Homo sapiens: one gene and its partners. The protein of the gene in region 1 interacts with the protein of each later gene in a pairwise test. Each region holds a gene or a part of one and is shown in the gene's direction. Other genes may lie near its edges.

Region 1 (7,098 bases):
GGCTGGATGCCTGGCCTGTGCTGAGGTTCAGTGTCGTTTTCCTGATCTTACAGAGAGGGAGGTTAAGTAACTTGGGCAGGGTCATAAACCCACAAATGGCAGAGTCGGGATTCGAACCCATGTCTCTGATTCCAGAGTTCCTCACCTTAAACCACATCTGGCTGCCTTTGTCGTGCTTTGCTCCTGTTGCATGCTGCAAAGCCAAGTAGGTTAAGACAGGCTAGGTTCCTGCAGGGCTGGGTTGCCCGAGACCTGGGAGAGGTCTTCCAGAAGGCACTGCTGGCCTTCCTCGCCCAGGGCCAGAGCTACTGGAGAGAAAGGGCTGCTGTTCACATTTTTTCTTTTCTTTAAGTGCCCCAGATACTTTTCATAAGGGAAGTGTCAAAACAATTGTCAAAAGGAGAAGAATATTTCCTTCCTCTTCTCAGGCTAGACCAAGCAAGGGAGTTGGAGGGTGGAGAGTGGAGGGACCTGGTGAATCATCCAAGATTAAATACGGGCAGGCACTGCCAGGCTTGTGTGGAGATGAGGCTGGGACACTGTTCGCAGGAAGAGTCCGGTGTTCTGGCCCCCTGATGTCACCTTCACGGGCCTGACTCACAGTCCTAAATATCTGACAGCGAGATCGCTTGTAGGTAGGCTTCTTGTCACTTGTCATTTAAGTCCCCTGCCTGCCTTTTTTCCCTGCTCATTTCCATTTCGATCACGGCTTCTACTACATGTGCTTGAAATGAATGTTGTGTGTGAGGACCTGTGTGGTTTGGGCCATGTTGTGCCCCCCTGCCAGTGTCCTTCGGTGTTGAAAGGAAAAGGTATTTCTCTCCCTTCCATGTATGTTCTGCAAATTGACGAACATTTGCAAATTGCTTTGAGATGCGTTAATTTAAGGTGTGAAATAATAGATCTTGTGCGAAGGCTCAGCCACATTTCTGGCATTGATGGATTTTTCTCCCGTCTGGCCTGTGATTTGGGGAGGTAAAAATAGTCCTTTTTTCCACATTTTTATCTTTTTTTTTTTTTGCTGACATCATTCTTAGGAAGTGGTGTGCACATGCCGTGGAACTTTACATGGAACATGGAGCTCTGGGGAGCAGGAGTGCTCTTGGAGTGAGGGGTGGTCTGCGGTGGCCCAGGCACCCCCTGGCTGTCCGTGAAATGGCTTTGAAATGAGCAGGCACTGTTGAGGGCCTCAGTGGCTTTTTGGTATTTGGCTGTCTTTTCACTTATGACTCTTGGGTAATGGCAAGATAACTTTTGGGGAAAATGTTAGTTTAAAAAGAAAAAAAATCAGGCCAGCACTTTCACTCATTCCTGTCTGAGCTGGTCCCTTCCTTTGGCCAAAGCTGAACTAAACCAATGGCCTTCTCAGACTCGACTTCCAGACAGAGGAGCCGACATTGGGGCAAATCAGTTGGTGGTGTAATTTCCTGTGATGTTAACTTTGGGAACTTGAACTTGGAGTGGGAGCTAGCATTTTGACATGTGTCCCTCTAACAGGACTTGCTTGTGTGGAAACAGACCCCCACATACATGGCTGCGCCATTGTCTCCAATTCTGGATTTTTCCACAGATGACTTCTCGGGTGATCTGGTGGTAAAGGCACAGGTCTTCTAGCCAGGCCTTCTTGGCCTCCAGCAAGGGCAGGATCACAGCACCCCACCAGACCTGACTGGCCACCACCGCTGTAGCTGTGGCTGGGCGAGTGGGGGGGCCATGGGAATTGAAAGATGGGGTGGCCGAGATCTGAAATGCATTCAGTTGCAGTGGCCTGGATCTGCACGGAGCCGTTCTTTCTTTCTCTTAGACATCTGCATGGTGGTGACCTCATAGAATTCTAAGAAAAAAGGGGCTTTATGTAGGAATTCCATAGAGTGTGAAGGAATTTGGACAGGGGAAGGGGGAGGGAAGTTGCCATTCAGAGCCTGCAGTGCCTGCATTTTCCCCGAATTGTTTAACCCTCATGCTTCAGAATTAGGCTGAGGCTTGCGGGGTGGGTCATGTTGACCTGGGTGAACAGAGATCCCTTTAAGAAGAACTTCTCCATGTTCCAGAGGCGCGTTCTTACTGCAGGTGAGTGGCAGTATGGGAATTAGTCCACAGGCCCCTTCTCGAATGCCTGCCCTCTCTTGTTCCTTGTCCTCAACGTCTTTGAAACTTGGGCTTGTTGGGAAGACACCTGCAAAAGGATGGATGCACATGACCTTCAGCTCTAATGAATCAAGCTGCTGATGAGGAATTCACTGGGCTCCCAATCCAGAGAGCTTCGCACACACCCACTGGGGTTGAGACGAGCACTGGGTTTATTTATTGTGGACTTTTGGAGTCTGAAGGACTCTTGCCACCCATCTGTTTCACGGAACAGAACCTGAGGCTCAGAGGGAGCAAGGCGCTCCCCCACAGCCGCATTGAGAGCCTGAGCCTGGGCACCCGATGGAGTGAATGAGGCTGGAGTCCCAGACCTGCCTCTCATGAGCACGTCGCCCACTGAGCCTCAGCGTCATCATCTGGAAAACAGGGATAATATTATGACCTCAGAAGCTTCGGGGGAGGAAGTAAGTGAAATAATGCATTTCAGATGCTCAGCGCCTTTTAAGTGCTTGATGCTCATTCCCCAAGATTACATGAGAGACATGGAAAATCTTTAATGACCAAGGACCCACCCAGGGTCACTCAGCCGGGACCCTTGGTCCGTGGCCCAGAGTGTCTCCAGTGCCCCTGCATTGAGGCCCTAAACAAGGCCAGAAGCAGGTGCCGGGGACCCCTCTGGATTCCACCAGAGCACCTTCCTAGGATCATGGCTCCCAAAACGGAAGGGAAGGAGACAGCGCAGTTTGCAAAGAGGCAGGATTTAAGCACCAGGGTGGCCCTGTGGCGCCTCAGGAAAATGTTTGCCTGTCAGTATCTGCTCTCGTTCCCACCTGTCCCCACAAAGCGAGGCCATAAGTCCTCGGCGTGGCATTGGAGGGTCTCTGAAGGCCCTGAGAGCTGTGTCAGCCACGGTGTGTTATGAAGCAAGGCAGATGTTTTGTTAATTATTTACACAGCGTCGGCCCCGCAGAGGACTGCGCTGACAGGAGCGGCTGTCACAGGCCTGGCCGTGGGGCAGAAGTGAGCAGCCGTCTTCCCCTGGCAGTCCTCCTGAAAAGGTCTGCATGGCAAGGCCTGAGGGAGTCCTGCACATTTTATGCCCCCGCCCCCCAAAGCCATTTGGGTTTCCCTTAAACTGGCTTGTTTTCCTGAGCCGGTGGAGAGATCCTTGTCCTCCGGAAGTGGCTATCGCTCTGGGGCGGCTTCTCTGCCAGCTCGTCACACCCTAGACCCAGCTGTAGTCTGTGTGGTGGGAGAGGGTGTCACCAGGCTCTGGAGGTCCACTCCTCTGTAGTCACCTCATGCAAGGAGGGCTTCACAGGGGCCCAGCCTCTACTCCCTCATCCGGAAAACGGGCCAGTAACACCAGGCACCAGCCCCGTGATCCTCAGGCACCCTTGGGGGTGATCTGCCTTAGAAATTCAACTTTAGGATTAGAATTCTGCTAAGAGGTACCATGTGACAAAAAAGGTAGTGTAAAAATCACAAAGACCAGGACAGGCTCATGCCTATAATCCCAGCACTTTGAGAGGCCGAGGCGGGCAGATCACTTGAGGTCAGGAGTTTGAGACCAGCCCAGCCAACATGGCAAAACCCCATCGCTACTAAAAATACGAAAAATTAGCTGGGCGTGGTGGTGGACACCTTTAATCCCAGCTACTCGGGAGCCTGAGGAGCCTGAGGCGTGAGAATCACTTGAACCTGGGAGACAGAGGCTGCAGTGAGCTGAGATTGTGCCACTGCACTCCAGCCTAGGCAACAGAGCGAGACTCTGTATCAAAAAAAAAAAAAAAAAAAAAAAAAGAGTTCTGCAAAGAATGGCACCTGGCATCAGAGCTTTCCCTGAAAGGCCACTAAGGATGAGGAACGTGAGCTCCGGGGAGGCGAAGGGGGCAAAGCCACCTGCCTGTTGCCTGTTTTACATAAGGAGGTTTTGCATAGGAGTCATTTTAAGATACATGAAGTAGCCAGAATAGATAAATCCACATAGACCTAAAGCAGATTGGTGGTTTCCAGGGCCTTTGGGGAGGGGAGACTGGGGAGCGACTGATTAAGGGACATGGGTTTTTATTGGGGTGACGCAGACGTTTTGGAACCGGATGAAGGTGGTGGTTGCACAACATTGTGATTGTAATACATCCCATCCAGCGGTTTGCTTTAAAGTGGTTAAATATATCTGAGAAAAATGTTAAACATAAAAGTTTTGGCCAGGCACGGTGGCTCACGCCTGTAATCCCAGCACTTTGGGAGGCCGAGGCAGGCGGATCACGAGCTCAGGAGTTTGAGACCAGCCTGACCAATATGGTGAAACCCCATCTCTACTAAAAATACAAAAATTAGCTGGGCGTGGTGGCGTGTGCCTGTAATCCCAGCTACTCAGGAGGCTGAGGCAGGAGAATCACTTGAACCCAGGAGGCGGAGGTTGCAGTGAGCCGAGATGGCGCCACTGCACTCCAGCTTGGGCAATAGAGTGAGACTCCGTCTCAAAAAAAAAAAGACAAGTTTGTCTTGCTTTAAAAAAAAAAATACCTCTCCTTTTACAGATGGCGACACTGAGGCCCAGAGAGACATCATGACCAGCCTCAGGTCCCACATGCAGCCTGCTGCTCTGTAGCCTAAATCAGATCACTGTCCCAGCTTTCAGGTCAAGGCTCTGGTTGTGACACCTGGGCCTGGACTGCGGGTGAAAAGTTTTGATGCAAAAACACAGACCGTCCATTGTCCTATGGGCTAAGTGGACTCCCTTCTGCTAACCAGAGATGCTTGTGCTGGCTGGTGTGTGGCACGTTATCTCATTCTTTCATGACGTATGTCCGGATGGAAGTCCTGGGTCAGGCATTGTGCTGGGAGCCCACACGAAGACCCTCTAATGGCCCCACCCATTGGCCTCTCACCACCTGGTGGGGACAGAGGCTGTCACAACCCCTTCTTAGGTGCTCTTGATCAATTTGCAGGTGGCATTTTTTGGGATGTAGTCTCTGGGGAAGTAGGAGAGCTTCCGGCAGTGAGGGGTGTTTGAACCCACCTGGAGGGAGACGTGGGGTTTGCCAGAGGGCTGAGAGGGCTGGGGTGAAGGGCAGGTAGACCCCAAGGTGGAGAGGCAGGTGGGGCCGGTGGGTGAGAGGTGGGGCTGTGGAACTTCCTCCTGCTTCTTTGGCCTTTGCTCCTGTCGGTAGATGGCCTTACCAGGCACTTACTGTGGGCCATGTTCTAATCTAACCCTTAACCTGAGGGAACTCACTTCATCCTCCCAGTGATGCCGTGATGTGGGTATCGTTCTGCCCATTTTATAGATGAGGAAACAGAGACCCAGAGAGTCCAGGATCTGTGGTGCTTGACGAGCATCAGCCTGAGTGCTGTGAGGACACCCACAGCATGGGGGTCTGAGCTGAAAATTGGAGGACAGAGGCTGCCCTCCGGAAGTGACCAGGATGTGCCCTCAGGAAGTGACCAGCTGCCCAGCTCAGGACCTGTGTGAGGGCCCCCAGGCAGCTGGAAGGAACAGTGTGCACCCAGGTACCATGCCAGGGCCCCTGAGCATCCGTCTTGTCATCGCATAGTTGTAACCTGCCTCACAGACTGAACATGCACTCTAGAAGGGGATGGGACTTGGTCTGTGGACCACAACAGTGTTCTCCATGGCCAGCATTGTGCCTGACACATAGGAGGAGCTCAATTAATATTTGTTGAGTGAATGGGAAGTTTTAAGTAGGCACGCGGCCGGATCCTTGGAGAATGTTTATATGGAGTGAACGAATCTGTTAGCAAACGTTCCTCACTCCCCTCAGTGGGCTGTGCAGGGCTGTATTGAGCTGAGCTGGCCCTTCCCTGGGAGAAGAGGTTTCTTAGAGAAATGCTCATCCTCGAATTATTCCAATGAGGAGGAACCTAAGCCCAGAAGGGCTCTACCTCCCAGAGTTACAGGCTCTCCTTCCTATGCCCCTTCCCTGCCGAGGCAGCTCCCACATGTCTGCATAGGAGGGCTTTGGGTTGGAATGGGTCAGTGCTGTGTCTTAAAGCTGCATTTTCTACCAAGCACACACTTTGTTTAGAGGGCATATCTTTTGGGGTTGCTTTGAGGAAAGGCTAACCAAGCCACCTCTGAGCACAGACATGACTTTTTGGCAAATGAGCAGGACCCCAGATTACACCCCATCTTAGAAAGTAGGAAACCCAGCATTGAAAGAGGAAAGATTCTGCAGCTGATGTGGCCTTGGCGGGCCACCAGCGTGGGTGCCCAGATGGCAGGATCACTGGGCACCACATGGCACACAGAAGAGAGCAAAGGAGAGGGAGTCCGCCCCTGGGCTTGGCAGGTCCGGTCGAGTCCGCCTGGATTCAGTTACAACAGGACCTCGAGTGGGCACGGCGTGCCGGACTGAGTCAGTGTGTGTACATTTCCTTTGTTCGTCTCCTCCGGGAATGTAGTGGCCTTTTGTGTGTGTTTTAAATGCCAGCCTCCTTACCTAACCCAAGAGGAAATGAGGACTGGGTTTTTGTCTGTGCAGACGCTGGGACAAGTGTGGGAGCCGCCTGCTCTTGGAGCCAGCCTAGTGGTGACAGCGTGGCATTTGGAAAACATTCTGTGGTTTTCTCCAAGGGGTGATGGGCACACCAGGTGCTGGGCCGCCCCTGAGCTGGCCACTGGGACCCTGAAATGAGGAAGCCCTGTGACCAGGTTTCATGATGCCATTCAGCAAGGGACGGCTGAGCACCACATGCCTTCTTGGCCCCTGGGGAAACACACAGGAATCAGATGAGGTCCCTGCCCCGTCTTCCTGGGGAAACATGCAGAGAAAATACTTGTACTCTGAGCTAACACCTTTCACTCGCACAGACCTTTATGGTGTTCTGTGTCTTCAGACATTGATCACCTGTAGGTGAGACACATCATGGCCCCACTTTCCAAACTCCCAAACGGGCTGTGATCTGTAGAAGTATTTAGTGCCATTCAGGGACAGGAGAGATGGTTTGGAAGATGCTGTCTGCTGTGCGAAGTCTCTGGATGCT
Region 2 (7,173 bases), on another chromosome or scaffold:
ACGACAGTGTCTGAGATACTGTGTGATTGTGTATGCGTGTGAATGTCTTTGTGGGAGAGGCTGTAATCAGGGATCGTGGGTGTGTGAAAAAGTGGCTTGAGTGAGAAAGGGGTAGGAGAGGTGATTTTTGTGCATGTGTGGGAAACTTCATGAGAGACTAGTTAGTGGTGACTATAAATCAGTGACTATTTGTGTATGTGAGAAAGTAACAGGCCAAATGAGTGCCTAAACGTTTCATGAGATTGTGTGACTGCACGTGTATGTAAGGAACTGACTGGTGAGAGAAACTATTGGCAATATTGACTGAATGAGACAGGCTGTTAAACATGATTGTGTGTGTGAAACTGTTAGGAGACTGTAGTAAGGCTGGAATCCATGACACAGAAAATGACTATGAGTGACAGAATGTCTGAGAGGCTGTGTGATTAAGAGAATATAGTAGAGGCTGTAAATCCGGACTGGGTGCGGTGGCTCATGCTTGTAATCCCAGCACTTTGGGAGGCCAAGGTGGGAGGATCACTTGAGGCCAGGAGCTTGAGACCAGCCTGGGCCACATGGTGAGACCCCGTCACTACTAAAAATTTAAAAAATTAGCATAACGTAGTGTTGTGCACCTGTAATCCCAGCTACATGGGAGGCTGATGTGGGAGGACTACTTGAGGCCAGGATTTTGAGTTTGAGACCAACCTGGGCAACATAGAAGGACCCTGCCGCTACCAAAACAAAAAACAAAATTACCCAGGTATAGTGGTGCATGCCTGTAGTCCCAGCTACTGAGGACACTGAGTTGGGAGGATCGCTTCAGCCCAGGAGTTTGAGTTTGAGACCAGCCTGGGCAATGTGGCAAAACCCTGTCTCTCCAAATAGTTTAAAAAATTAGCCAGGTGTGGCGTGTGCCTGTAGTCCCAGTTACTCGGGAGGCTGAGGTGGGAGGATGGTTTGAGCCCAGGAGGTTGAGGCTGTAGTCTGCGATCACGCCACTGCACTCCAGCCTGGGTAACAGAACCAGACCCTGTCTCGAAAAGAAAAGAAAGAAAAGAAAAACATAACTGTGTAGATAGGTTTAAAAAAAAAAAGAGAGAGAGAGAAAATAACAGACCAAATGAGACTGTGTGAGAGGTCTAATGCCCTGCAGACCCTCGAATGTTCCAGGCCCTGGAGAAAAACCCTCTTCTGTTTTTCCTGTTCCTCCACAGGCCCCTCCTGCTCAGTCCGCTGGGCTGGCTTCTCCTACTTCTCTAAAACTTGAAATGCTGGGGTTCCCCAGGGCAAAGCCCTGGGATTCCCTTCTCTCTTCTCACGCATCCTCTCTAGGTCATCTTATCCAGGTCTTCACACTTGAAATACTACTTATCCTCCATGGGATGCCCACATTTTTACCTCTAACTCAGACTGTCCTTCTGGCATTTTATCGTAATCTCTAAAGTTTTGTTTATTTCATTGATTGATTCATTTAGCAGATGTTTATTGAGCATCCACTGTTTCCTGGTGCCTATCTAATGCCCTGCAGACCCAGCAGTTAACAAGCCAGACAAAAATCCCTGCCCTTGTGGAACTGATATTTAGGGAGTGAGAATAACAAGAAGCAGGCAAATACATAGTAGCAGGTAGGGATGTAATAATTAAATAAGACAAGACTCTCACTCTTTGTTTAAGGAATCTGCAGTCATTTTATTGCCTAAACGTGTGGGAAAAGATAGAGTGCTGACAGTCCTCTTCCACAGGGAATCCTATGAGTATTTATACAGTTTAGAAACAAAGGAAATATTGTTAATATTATTACCAGGGCAACAGGTGGTTAAATAAAGAAGCCAGCCAGAATTTCAGGTTTCTTTCTTTTTTTTTTTTTTTTTTTTTGGGACAGAGTCTCACTCTGTCGCCCAGGCTGGAGTGCAGTGGCACGATCTCAGCTCACTAGAGCCTCTGCCTCCCGAGTTCAAGCGATTCTCCTGCCTCAGCCTCCCAAGTAGCTGGGATTACAGGCATCCGCCACCACGCCTGGCTAATTTTTGTATTTTTAGTAGAGACGGCGTTTCACCATGTTGACCAGGCTGGTCTCGAACTCCTGACGTCAGGTGATCCACCTGCCTCAATCTCCCAAAGTGTTGGGATTACAGGCGTGAGCCACCATGCCTGGCCAGTTTCAGGTCTCTTGGAGAGTGTTTTCACAGGATAACACAGCAATGATTGTCTTGAAGTCGTAGAATCTTAATAAGACTCCTTTGTTCAAAGCACATTTTCAAGGATAGCCTTATGTTATCAGAGAACAGAGTATGTCTGTAATGGATACAGATATTAACACATACTTTACTGCCCATAAAACAAGTGTTCCTGAAGAACTTCTGTTTTAACAGCTGACCAAATTATTACATTTGAATTTGCAGAATTCCTCTGCCTCCCTGAGAGCAGAGGAAATTAGGCATTGCCTTCCTATCTTTCTTGTGCTTCTTTTTGTTAATTAAAAGCAAAATAAAAATTTTAAAGTGGGCCCTGGAGTTTCATTAGGGTTTATAAAAAAAAAATAAAAAAATAAAAAAAAAAGAAGGGCTGGTGTGATGGCTCATGCCTGTAATCCCAGCACTTTGGGAGGCTGAGGTTGGGAGAAAATATTGAAGCCAGGAGTTTGAGACCAGCCTGGGCAACACAACGAGACCCCATCTATACAGAAAATAAAAACATTAGTTGTGTGGTGGTGTGTGCCTGTAGTCCCAGCTACTTGGGGACGCTAAGGTGGGAAAATCACTTGAGCCCAGGAGTTTGAGGCTGCAATGAGCTATGATCAGACCACTGCACTCCAGCCCAGGTGACAGCAAGACTCTGTCTCTTTAAAACAAAACAAACAAAAAAACAGGTTTGGAAGCTACTGGGCTAGAGAGTGACAGGGATGCCAGACAAGGGTATGGGGAAGGCCTCTGTGAGGAGGGGCAACATTTGTTATCCATCTTCTCGAGGGCCAGGATTTTTGTCTGTCCTATTCTCTGCTCTAATGCTAAGAACCGCATCTGGCATCCAGTAGGTGCTCAATAAATGTTGAATAAATTTATCAAACACAGAGCACCTACTATATGCCAGGCACTGTTCTAAAGACTTTCCAAAAGCTTAACTCCTGGCCGGGCACGGTGACTCACGCCTGTAATCCTAGCACTTTGGGAGGCCAAGGCAGGTGGATAACCTGAGGTCAGGAGTTCGAGACCAGCCTGGCCAACATGGTGAAACCCTGTCTCCACTAAAAATACAAAAATTAGCTGGACATGGTGGTACACGGCTGTAATCCCAGCTACTCAGGAGGCTGAGGCAGGAGAATTGGTTGAAATCGGGAGGCAGAGGTTGCAGTGAGCCGAGATCGTGACACTGCACGCCAGCCTGGGCGACGGAGTGAGACTCCATCTCGACAAAACAAACAAAAGCTTAACTCGCAATCTTTGCAACACACCCTACCTATGTTGTAGGTGCTGTCTGTGAGCACATTTTACAGAGGGGAAACAGGCTCCAGAAGGGGGGTGTTATCTGCCTGAGGGTTCTCTGATGGAATATGGCCCAGCTTATTCCCTCCTAATCACCCCAGACCCTGGTGTTGTCCCCAGCTGGGCCCATGGAACAATGGATAGACCCCATTCCCCTCCTGAATCCCTCCCCAGGCTCCTGCCACTTCCCTTTCTCACTTCCCTTGTGCTGACCTCCCCGACCACAAGCTGACCACAGGGAACCTCTCAGGAAAGGAGGGCCGAGGTTAAGGGAGGGTGGAAGGTGGAGCAACTGACTCGATGCTCCCTCCACCCCCACGAGCAGGAACATACTGAGCACCGCACACTCACTTCACCCTGGTTCAACACCCCCACGAGGTTGACCCCGTCATTATGTTAGAGATTATGCATTTTCCACATAGGGAAACTGAGGCTCAGGGGTGTTAAGTGACTCACCCAAGGTCACACGGCTAGGAAGTTGCTGCACGCTCCTATGCTCCATTTCCTCTGGGTGAGAATTTGTCCTAGGAGCTTCTATTGAACACTGTGAGGTTGCTGGGAGGAGCGCGAGGTGCTGGGGATATAGTAACAAACAGAACAAGACCAAGAGTAAGACAGGAAATGGGGAGGGGAGAGTAGAGAAGGAGGCAGAGGGGACAGGGTGGGGTCAAAGCAGGATGCCCTCCCAGTTCCTCCTGCCTCTAGGTTCCTCTTTCCCTGCTGATTCCAGGAGCCTATCAACCCAGATAAAGCGGGACCTCCTCTCTGGTAGAGGTGCAGGGGGCAGTACTCAACATGATCACAGAGGGAGCGCAGGCCCCTCGATTGTTGCTGCCGCCGCTGCTCCTGCTGCTCACCCTGCCAGCCACAGGTGAGGGGGTGAGGGCCCAGCTGGCCCCAGGGGTGTCCAGGCCCACCACATCCCTGACCGAGCCCCACCCACCCATCCCCTGGCCCTGTTACAGGCTCAGACCCCGTGCTCTGCTTCACCCAGTATGAAGAATCCTCCGGCAAGTGCAAGGGCCTCCTGGGGGGTGGTGTCAGCGTGGAAGACTGCTGTCTCAACACTGCCTTTGCCTACCAGAAACGTAGTGGTGGGCTCTGTCAGCCTTGCAGGTTAGGGGGAGCCTGGGGTGGGGGATGGGGGGGAGGGAAGGACTGTCTGTGGGGGTCACCCAAAACTGGGCACTTTCTTTCTCTGGGACTTCCAAGGGTGGCCCTGAGGCCCTGATCGTGACCATACCTCAGGGTTTCTCAACCTTGTTACTATTGACATTTGGGGCTGGAAATTCTTGGCTGGGGGAGGGGATTGCTTACCTGTGTATTGTGGGATGTTTTGTAACACCCCTAGCCTTCCACTAGATGCCAGTAGCAATTCTCCCCACCAGCTGTGACAACCAAACATGTCAGCAGACATTGCCAAATGTCCCCTGGGGGTCAAAATCACCCCTGATTGAGAACCACTGACATAGCTCACACATATTGAGCACCTCCTGCACACTGGAAGCATTGCAGGTGGGGTGCAGCTTGGTATTTCCCTAATTTTGATGACAGCTCATGTTTATTGAGTGCTTACTGTATATGGACACACTGTGGGGGCGGGAAAGTTTGGGGAATTCAAAGGGCAGCTCTAGGCCCCTAATTATGATGACACTTCACATTCATTGAGCACTCCCTGTATACCAGCTGCATGGCAGGGTTGGGAGATGAGCTTGAGGATTTCTGAGGGTAGCTCTAGTCTCCTGATCATGATTTCCAGCTTGCATGGATTGAGCCCTTACCGTATGCCAGACCTGTTTTCTACTTGTTTACTATATATCCCAGATACACCGTGGGCATGGGGAGCTTGGGGATTTTTGAGGGCAGCTCTGGGCCCCAAGTCATGTCAACAGTTCATCACATCTATTTGGCATGAACAGCATACCTAGGGCTATGCAGTGGGTTGGGGATAGATCTGGGGTTATTTCTGAGGAGGCCTCTGAGGTCATAGGGATGATGGCTCAGGTTTATTAAGCACTTTCTATTTACCTACTACCGTGTAGTGTGGTGATCTGGTGGGTTTCTGACAGCAGCCCTTGGTTTCTAGTCCTTACCTTTGCTTACTGCGGACCTGGTGTTGGCCATGCAGCCTTCCAATGGTAACTCCAGATGCCTGATTGTGAAGGTAAATGACATTATCAAGCACTTATTGTATATCCACTGCTTCCCATCAGTATCCCAATATCCCTAAAAGGTAAGGACTTATCAATCCATCGCACACGCACTTGCCTAGCAACCCTTCGTGTCTGCCCACACTCTGGAGTCCCACATGCCATTCTTGTTAGCTCATGCCAGGATGGGATGTGTGTGCTCTTCTCCACAGGTCCCCACGATGGTCCCTGTGGTCCACATGGGCCCCCTGTTCGGTGACGTGCTCTGAGGGCTCCCAGCTGCGGTACCGGCGCTGTGTGGGCTGGAATGGGCAGTGCTCTGGAAAGGTGGCACCTGGGACCCTGGAGTGGCAGCTCCAGGCCTGTGAGGACCAGCAGTGCTGTCCTGGTGAGGAGGATGAGCAAGGCGGGCAAGCACTCCCTGTCACCCAGCACTGGTGGGAACGATCGGTACAGAGGTCCTCAGAGTGGGCCCGTCCCCAGTGTTTGTAAGGACCTAAGGAGGAGAGTGGTGGGAGGTGAGGTCAGAGAGGTGAGGAGGGTCCATTGCCTGGGGGCCACAGAGAGGACGTTGGCTTTTCATCTGAGTAATTTGGACTGTGGGCAGAGGAGGAACGTGATCTGACTGGGGTTGGGAGGAGAACAGACTGTGCACGGTGAGGGTGAGAGGGGAAGCGGAGGCACCCATGTGAAGGTTGCTGCGGCAGGCCCGGTGAGCGGGGATGGTGGGCCCAGAATGGTGGCAGAGGATATAAGGACAGGATTAGCTCATGTGGGGCACTCAAGGAAGCAAAGAGCCCTGAATGACACCCCACCTCCATCCCATTACCCTCTCTTCTCTCCCACAGAGATGGGCGGCTGGTCTGGCTGGGGGCCCTGGGAGCCTTGCTCTGTCACCTGCTCCAAAGGGACCCGGACCCGCAGGCGAGCCTGTAATCACCCTGCTCCCAAGTGTGGGGGCCACTGCCCAGGACAGGCACAGGAATCAGAGGCCTGTGACACCCAGCAGGTCTGCCCCAGTGAGTGAGGGAAGCCACAGGATGCTGATGGGTGCACCCAGCGTGGGTCTGCGGGGTTACAGCAGGGAACTGCCAGGCTGAGAGGACTTTAGCATGCATGACCACACCTGCATCCCTCCACCTCCCACCCCACCACAGCACACGGGGCCTGGGCCACCTGGGGCCCCTGGACCCCCTGCTCAGCCTCCTGCCACGGTGGACCCCACGAACCTAAGGAGACACGAAGCCGCAAGTGTTCTGCACCTGAGCCCTCCCAGAAACCTCCTGGGAAGCCCTGCCCGGGGCTAGCCTACGAGCAGCGGAGGTGCACCGGCCTGCCACCCTGCCCAGGTACACCAGGATGAGGCTGCTGATGTTGCTGGTGGGGCTCTTGATTGAGGGCAGAGATGCTCTGCCATTTCTAGAGTTCCTAGGCCATGTGACCATGCAGCCCTTCATTTGGGGACAGTCTGCTTCAAGGGTCTAGGGGCTGAGAGGAAGGATTGAGGAGGCCTTTCTCCTCACTCCCTTTCCTCCTCCAACAGTGGCTGGGGGCTGGGG
Region 3 (7,167 bases), on another chromosome or scaffold:
CAGTCAGTAGTGCTGAGACCTCTCAGATGGCCTACATATAGCCTTTTAAAAAACCTAATTCAAGAATTATAAAATATTAGATAAAGATACCCAGGAAATCTGGAAGGCTCTTCCCGGGCTAGGAATAATAGAAGGGGCTCTCTCGTGTTTTTCCCTCTCCCTCTTGCAAGTCTTGGCTCATTTTAAATTCATTTCTCATTTTCTGATTTCCTCTTACAATAAATACAGAGGGAGAAAAGGATCAGGTGAAGGCTCATTTATCTTAGCGTCTAGGTCATGTGAAGTGTTGAACACTCAGCTGTTGAAGCACTGCCAGTGTCCAATCAAGGTTTTTGTAGGGCTATTGCAGCCCAGCTCTGGGCTGTGTTCCTTTCAGAGAATTCAGAATTCAGATGAAGCTAGGACAAGATTGCAAACAATACAAAACAATAAAACCACTACTTCATTCCTCTGGGCAATCTGTGTCTTTTAAGGATCTGTCCCTTGAGCTGGATAATATCTCCTCTTTGAAGGCTATCCTGCTCTGCACCCTCCCTTCTAGTCCACTCCCGTCTCCCAAGACAGTCAACTACTATACTCTTTTCTGTGCTGACACTGGGACCTTATAAATAATAACAGCTGTCTTGGGGACCTTTATTTTTGGCAGCCTGTGCATGGTCTCTTTTGCTACATAGCTATGATTATTGTTCCCATATTATAGGCAGGGAAACAGAGGCTAAGAGAAACTAAATAACTGATGTAGGCACAAAGGAAGTAAGCTATGGAATATTAGACTTGAATCTAGGTCTGCCTTCTCAATCTAGGCTTTAAGCTTTTCCTCCTCACAATGTTCCAGAATTCCCCCTGCTGCTTTGGCCATCCTAGCTTTTTATTTATTTTTTATTTTTCTTAGAGTCAGGGTGTCACTTTGTTGCCCAGGTTGGTCTCAACCTCATGAGCTCAAGTGATCCTCCCACCTGGGCCTCCCAAAGTGCTGGGATTACAGGCGTTAGCCACCATGCCCGGCCTGCTTTATTCTTTCTTTCTTTCTTTTTTTCTTTTTTTTTTTTTTGAGGAGAGATACTCCTCCACTTTTTTAAATCTATATATTTAAGGTACACAACATGATGTTATGGGATAGTCAAAAAGTCACTATAGTGAAGCAAATTAACAGAGCCATCATCTCACACAGTTATCCATTTTTTTTGTTTATTGTGGCAAGAGAAGCTAAAATCTACTCATTTAGTATGAATCCCATATGTAATAAATTTTATTGCCCCTCCACCTTTTAATACCCTGGGACTCATACTTCTTTCCTTCCCAAAGGCTGCTGATCCCCACCTTCCCACCTCATTCTGGCAGCTATCCACCTCTGTTCTCTCTCCAGCCCTATCCCATATTAGCTCAGGATGAGCACTTCAGGGAAGTGCCTTAGAATTCCAGACAAGTGAGAGAAGCGGAGCTGCCCAACACTTGTAAGAGGTGGTGCTAAACAGGAGTTCAAGACAAGTCTGAGCAACATAGTGAGATCCCATTTCTATAAAGTTAAAAAATTTTTATAAAGGAAGAAAACCCCAAAAGCTCCAGACTTGGAGCTAAGTCTAGTTTCTCTCTCTTTTTTTTTTTTTAAAGACAGGGTCTCACTCTGTTACCCAGGCTGGAGTGCAGTGGCGCAGTCACAACTCACTGCAGCCTTGACCTCTTGGGCCCAATCCTCCCATCTCAGCCTCCCACATAGCTGGGACCAAGGATGCACACCACCCTGCCGGCTAATTTTTTTATTTTTGTAGAGACAGTCTCCTTATGTTGCCCAGGCTAGTCTTGAACTCTTGTGCTCACGCAATCTTCCGCCTCTGCCTAAGTGTTGGGAGACCATAGACAGACTGTACGTTATTTATTTTTTAGAGATGGGGGCTTGCTGTGTTGCCCGGGCTGCACTTGAACTCCTGGGCTCAAGTGATCCTATCCTCCTGCCTCAGCCTCCTTAATAACTGGGATTACAGTCAAGCGCCACTGTGCCCGGCTGAGACTGCATCTTATTTATCTTACTCATTGCTACTATCTAGTTCAAGCCATCATTCTGTACCTGGGTAATGGAGCCTCTGGCTTCCACCATTGTCCTCTTAGTTCTGCTCTTAGCACGGCGGCCAGAGTGATCTTTTGAAAGCACGAGTCAGATCCTATCACTCCTCTGTTCAAAGCCCAGCAGTGGTTCTGTTTCAGCCAAGATTCCTACAGCTCCCTACTTGAGACCCCTCTCTCTGATCTTATCTCCTCATTAGGCTCCCATTTGCTCACGGCTCCAACCGTCCTGGCCTTCTCATTATTTTTAACACTTCCCGAGGCTTTTGTCTCCAGGCCTTTCCACCAGCTAGCTGTTCCTTCTGCCTGGGACACTCTTCCCCAGACAACTGCATGGCTGACTCCCTCAGCTCTTTCAGGTCTCCGATTTAAAGTCATTTTATAAATGAGGCCCATGCTGACGGCTCTATTTAAAATTGCAGGCCAGGCGCGGTGGCTCAGGCCTGTAATGCCAGCACTTTGGGAGGCCGAAGAGCGCGGATCACTTTTGAGTTCGGGAGTTTGAGACCAGCCTGGCCAACATGGTGAAACCCCATCTCTACTAAAAATACAAAAATTAGCCGGGTGTGGTAGCGCGCGCCTGTAATCCCAGCTACTTAGGAGGCTGAGGCAGGAGAATCACTTGAACCCGGGAGTTGCAGTGAGCTGAGATCGCGCCACTGCACTCCAGCCTGGGCGGGAGAGCAGGATTCCCTCTTAAAAAAAAATTGCAAACCCCCTTCCTCCAGTTTTCCTCATACCCCTTACCCTGGTGTATTTTTTTTTCCCCATATGCCTTCTAACATATTACATAATTCTCTTACATTTATCATCTTTCTCCTTATATTAGAATGAAAGCTCCAACAGGGAAGGGTATTTGTTTTCTCTCTCTCTTCTGTTTACTGATACATCCCAAGCACTAAAATAGTGTCTGGCAACCTTAGTAGTGATTGGCAAATATTTGTTGAGTGAATGAGTACATGAATCTTCAGAATCTTGCTAGTCTTATAAAGAAAAGGAATATGTGAATACTTTGAATCTCCAGTGCCTAGAAATGCTTGACCAAACGGCAGGTGTTCAATGTTTACTGAAGGAATTGTGTGCTCAGATCTGCTGGAGGTCTTTATCTGAACCCTTTGAGACTATGTCAAAAAAGTACCCAGGGCCAATTCACTCATGCCTCTCCTTTTCCTCTCATCCAATCAGCCTAGTATTCATCTAACAAATATCTAAGTCTCCAAATATTGAGCCACCCATTGTGAGTTCAAAAGCGTGTTTGGCGCTGCAGGGGAATATGTGACTAACGCGAATGAAGCAACAGCAAATACTACACTGGAATGTAATTAAGTGTGAAATTATAGGGCAGATTATCAGTGCTAATAGTTTAGAGAAAGAATCAGTGAAGACTGACGTAGAAGTAAATTCCAAAGTTCACTCGTCGACCAAACTACCCTTCTAAACGCTCCACCTACTGATAGTAGTACCATAACCTGGGTAGCTACCTTGAGAATTAGAAGGGCCTTTAGAGGTCCAACTCCTTTAAGAAAGAAAGAAAGACCAGGCACGGGAAAGGCCTCCGCAGACATGAGTCTAGCACCTGGGACTCATGAAGTTCTGAAAAGAGGGGTGTCCTGAAGGTCCAAGGCGCCTTTGTTGGGGGTCCCGGAATCCGCGGTGTGCCAGGTCGGAAAAGGCGTCCGCTTTCCTGGAGAGGAGGCTAAGGTGCCGGGCGCTTCGGTGAGGTGGCGGATGTTGGGGGGCGGGGGAGGGCAGAAGGCACCATTCCTTCGGGGCATGGGGCCCCAGGTATCCGTGGGCAGGGTCCAAAGCCACCGATCCCTACTGTCCTCAACTGCGGGGTTGCCTCCGCCGCCTTTGCTCCCAGACGCCACTCCGAGGCACAAGGACCCCAAGTCGCTCGGAACTGCCGGCCGCTAGATGACACCGGCTGCGCCGATGCAGAGCCTCGGGAGTCTCAGGGCACTACTTGTCCCAGCGGAGGGATCCTGCGTGCGTCGAAGCGACCGTGACCGCGCAGGGACTTGACGCCGCTGACGCCGGGCCGGCGGCGCAGCGACGCCGCAGGAGGCGGTGGCGGCGAGGGCGGGCGGGGGATGCGGGTCGGGAAGTAGTTCCGGGTGCGCGGCCCCGGATGTTGGCTGCTCTTGCTGCCGCCGCCGCTCTCGGGGCTGCTCGGGGCCTCGACCGCTCGCAGTAGGCACCGTTGGGACCTTTCCCGGGGGGGCGGAGACGCACGGAGCGGCCGGGGGCTCGGCCGGGCCGTCCCGGCCTGCGCAGCCTGAGGTAAGTGCCCCCCGCCAGGGCGGCCGGGCCTGGGCGGCGGGCGAGGAGGCGGGGCTGTGGCATCTCCCGGGACGGAGGCAGGGGCTGTCCTCCGCGAGACGCCCTCTCTCTTCCAGCCGCAGCCGCGTTGCGGGGTGGGCGGCGGGTGGGGCAGGGGGCCTGGGCCCCGGCTGGGGCCTGGCGGACGCCGAGGGCTGGGTCCTTCCCTCCCCCGCGGCGCTTCTCAGCTGCTGCTGCCCCTCAGCTGGGAAGCAGCGGCTTCGCGTCTCCCGCCCCTCCCCCAGGCGGGGCACCGGGGAACCAGACGTGGATCCCGGGGGCGCCTAGTCCGAGGGCAGCGACCGTCTCCTTCCCTCCATGACCTGTCCCTTGGCCTGGGCTAGCCCCCGACCCCGGCACTCTGCGGCTTCTTCCCTTTAAGCTTGGGGGCGCTTTTCTGCCGGCAGGGCGGGCTGTACCTCACGCCTTGGAGTGGCCCTTTGGGGAGAGGAGGCCCATGCGAGGGTGCTTGCGTTCCCGCCCATCCTGTGTCTGTGTCCTTTGCTGGGATTAGGGCAAAGGCAGCCGTTCCATGCGGACGTGTTGCTGTCCTGTGTGTGTTGCATCCTGCCCACGTGGTAGAGTGTCTCCCGCCCCCCCTCCCAGCTCCATTTTTGCAGCTGGTGAGGAGGGAGGTTAACGGGATGGTTTTTCCTCTGTGATTTCCTCCGGGTGGCGTGGAAGGTGTTAGGGTCAGTTTGCTTTGCCGAGGCCGGCTGTTGGTTAGATGAAGAATCGAGAGTTGTACTCTGAAATTGAGGCCAGTAGGGGACATAACAGGGCTTAGTTTCATTAACATCTTTTTTCCTCTTCCATTAGCTGCTCTTATTCTTTTCTCTGTTGCTTAATTATAGAGAATAAGCGCTTGCTACCGATGCATTCAGGTGTATAGTTTTCATTTCTCTGTTTTACTTTTTGTGTGTCTGGTTAGCAAAGGTTTTACTATTCCGTGTTGGTGCATTCCACGTCTGTGTTGTCCCTGGTTGGATTCCTGAATGAGTTAGAGCCATTCACTCTAATTCCTGAAGGAGTTAGAGATTGGTGGGCACCTTTTTGGTCTTTTTCTGAGATTTATTTGTGTGTGTTTTCTTCCTTCTATTTTGTTTCCCAGTGAAAAAGCGTGATGTCATAGGAGCGTTATATGCATAGCTCTTTTTCTCACAAGGCAGCACTAGTTTCACCTAGTCACTTATTTTGTAGAAGCTCTTTTACTTCACTTTTCCTCTTACTCTGTTGAGTACCCATTGCACACTCTTTTTTTGAAACTGGTTTGAAACATGGTTTGAGTAGTTTTTTTCTTAATGTCTCTTCCAGATTAGGGTTTCCATCTTCTGTTTTGCTGTTTTGAGACCACAGATTGTTCCCGCAATAACAGTGAGAGAAGCCTATTCCTCCTGGTCCCTAGCAAATATTTATAGAAAAGCAGTAACTCCTCTCTTTTTCTGAGTGGTATATATTATATAGACGTGATTAAGTTTTTTAGTTTCTTAGATAAATAGGAGGATTTCTCTTTTTGCTTTTGTGTCTCAGAATTGAGGTGAATCTTCTTGGTTTTGTGCTGCCGAGGACAAAACTGGGAAGTTTCTCATGCTTTCATTAGATTTTTTTTGGATGAGGCTAGAACGTGTTTATTTTGGCTCTTTTTTGTTCATTAGTTTGGGTAAAATAAAAAAACTTAATGTTTCAAAGTCACTTACTAGATTCCAAAGTGGCCTGCATTCTCACTTTTTCACATTGTACATTCTTTGAGTATATTTTTGACATTTTTTTCCTTTTATCTGGTACAGTTCGTATATTCCCTTTCCTTCTATGTAGAATGAAAATATTTAAATATAGATTTTAGATTATATTTTTTCATTATGCTAAGTATGGGTGGGGCAGTGGAAAATGGAGAATGTTGTTCTGATACATACTGAGGCTTTTTGTTTTTTTTTGGTAAGTCAGCATTTGTGTACTTCTGTAAAGTACCGAGTTATCTATGTGTGAAGTCTGTATGAAGAGACGAATAAGATACGTGGTCTCTTGGAAAGCTTCAACTTATATCGAAAGAACAGAGTTTCTTTTTCTGTTCGGGAAACATGTACATCATTCAGAATTATCAAACTGCATCAAACTTCTCCTTGGGATAACAGTACAACCAAGGTCAAAAGTGTAAGGGACATTTGAGAAAGATACAAATTTCCAAAGGGAAAGAGGTGTATTTCAGGAGAGTGAAGGGGCCTGTGCAAAGCGAGAGAAGTGGCAATGTACAAATGATATCAAGGAGCTTGACTGTCAGATCATCTGTGTTGGTGAATAATAATAAATGAGTTTAGGATTGGTGAGGGGGTATTGATGGAGGATCTTTCAAGGATAGAGGGTTTAGTTTGATAGGGTACCACAATGGGTTCTAAAGAATGAGAGTAAGATGATGCATCTTGTTCCTGAGGAAGGTTTTTGTTTCAGCTGAGTGTCCTGGGAGTGGAGAGACTGATTAGAGTGCTTATGGAGAATTTTAGGAATAAGCTGATGAGGGTCTGATATAAGATAGTGGTTGTAGGAATAAAATAATAGCTAACATTTACTTACTGTATGACAGGTATTCTAAGCGCCTACGTTTGTTTAATTCATTAAATCTTCATAATAAGGTATTAAAATCAGAAGGGACTTTGGGCAAGTTGCTTAACCTTATGCATGTAATTATTCCCATATACAATGAACGGTTAGATGAAAGGTAGATTTTGCACTGACCAGGGATATAGATGCTAGTAAAACACATCAGTAGATGTGTGTTGGGAGGGTAGT

The links. The genes of interacting proteins can lie anywhere in the genome.
Region 2: the proteins of NEK6 (region 1) and CFP interact in binary tests that used the Homo sapiens proteins (3 or more experiments, as listed by UniProt).
Region 3: the proteins of NEK6 (region 1) and FOXJ3 interact in binary tests that used the Homo sapiens proteins (3 or more experiments, as listed by UniProt).

Annotation. Positions count from the first base shown.
Region 1 is NC_000009.12:124,260,949-124,268,046, forward strand, and holds part of NEK6 (serine/threonine-protein kinase Nek6), read left to right. Parts: intron 1-145; exon of another isoform or gene 146-220; intron 221-519; exon of another isoform or gene 520-635; intron 636-1,967; exon of another isoform or gene 1,968-1,997; coding exon of another isoform or gene 1,998-2,070; intron 2,071-2,076; exon of another isoform or gene 2,077-2,552; intron 2,553-7,098. UniProt on the Homo sapiens protein: Protein kinase which plays an important role in mitotic cell cycle progression. Required for chromosome segregation at metaphase-anaphase transition, robust mitotic spindle formation and cytokinesis.
Region 2 is NC_000023.11:47,626,931-47,634,103, reverse strand, and holds the start of CFP (properdin precursor), read left to right. Parts: upstream 1-4,173; 5' UTR 4,174-4,259; coding exon 4,260-4,335; intron 4,336-4,429; coding exon 4,430-4,580; intron 4,581-5,826; coding exon 5,827-6,002; intron 6,003-6,462; coding exon 6,463-6,633; intron 6,634-6,771; coding exon 6,772-6,963; intron 6,964-7,157; coding exon 7,158-7,173. UniProt on the Homo sapiens protein: A positive regulator of the alternate pathway (AP) of complement. It binds to and stabilizes the C3- and C5-convertase enzyme complexes. Inhibits CFI-CFH mediated degradation of Complement C3 beta chain (C3b).
Region 3 is NC_000001.11:42,332,236-42,339,402, reverse strand, and holds the start of FOXJ3 (forkhead box protein J3), read left to right. Parts: upstream 1-4,167; 5' UTR 4,168-4,344; intron 4,345-4,447; exon of another isoform or gene 4,448-7,167.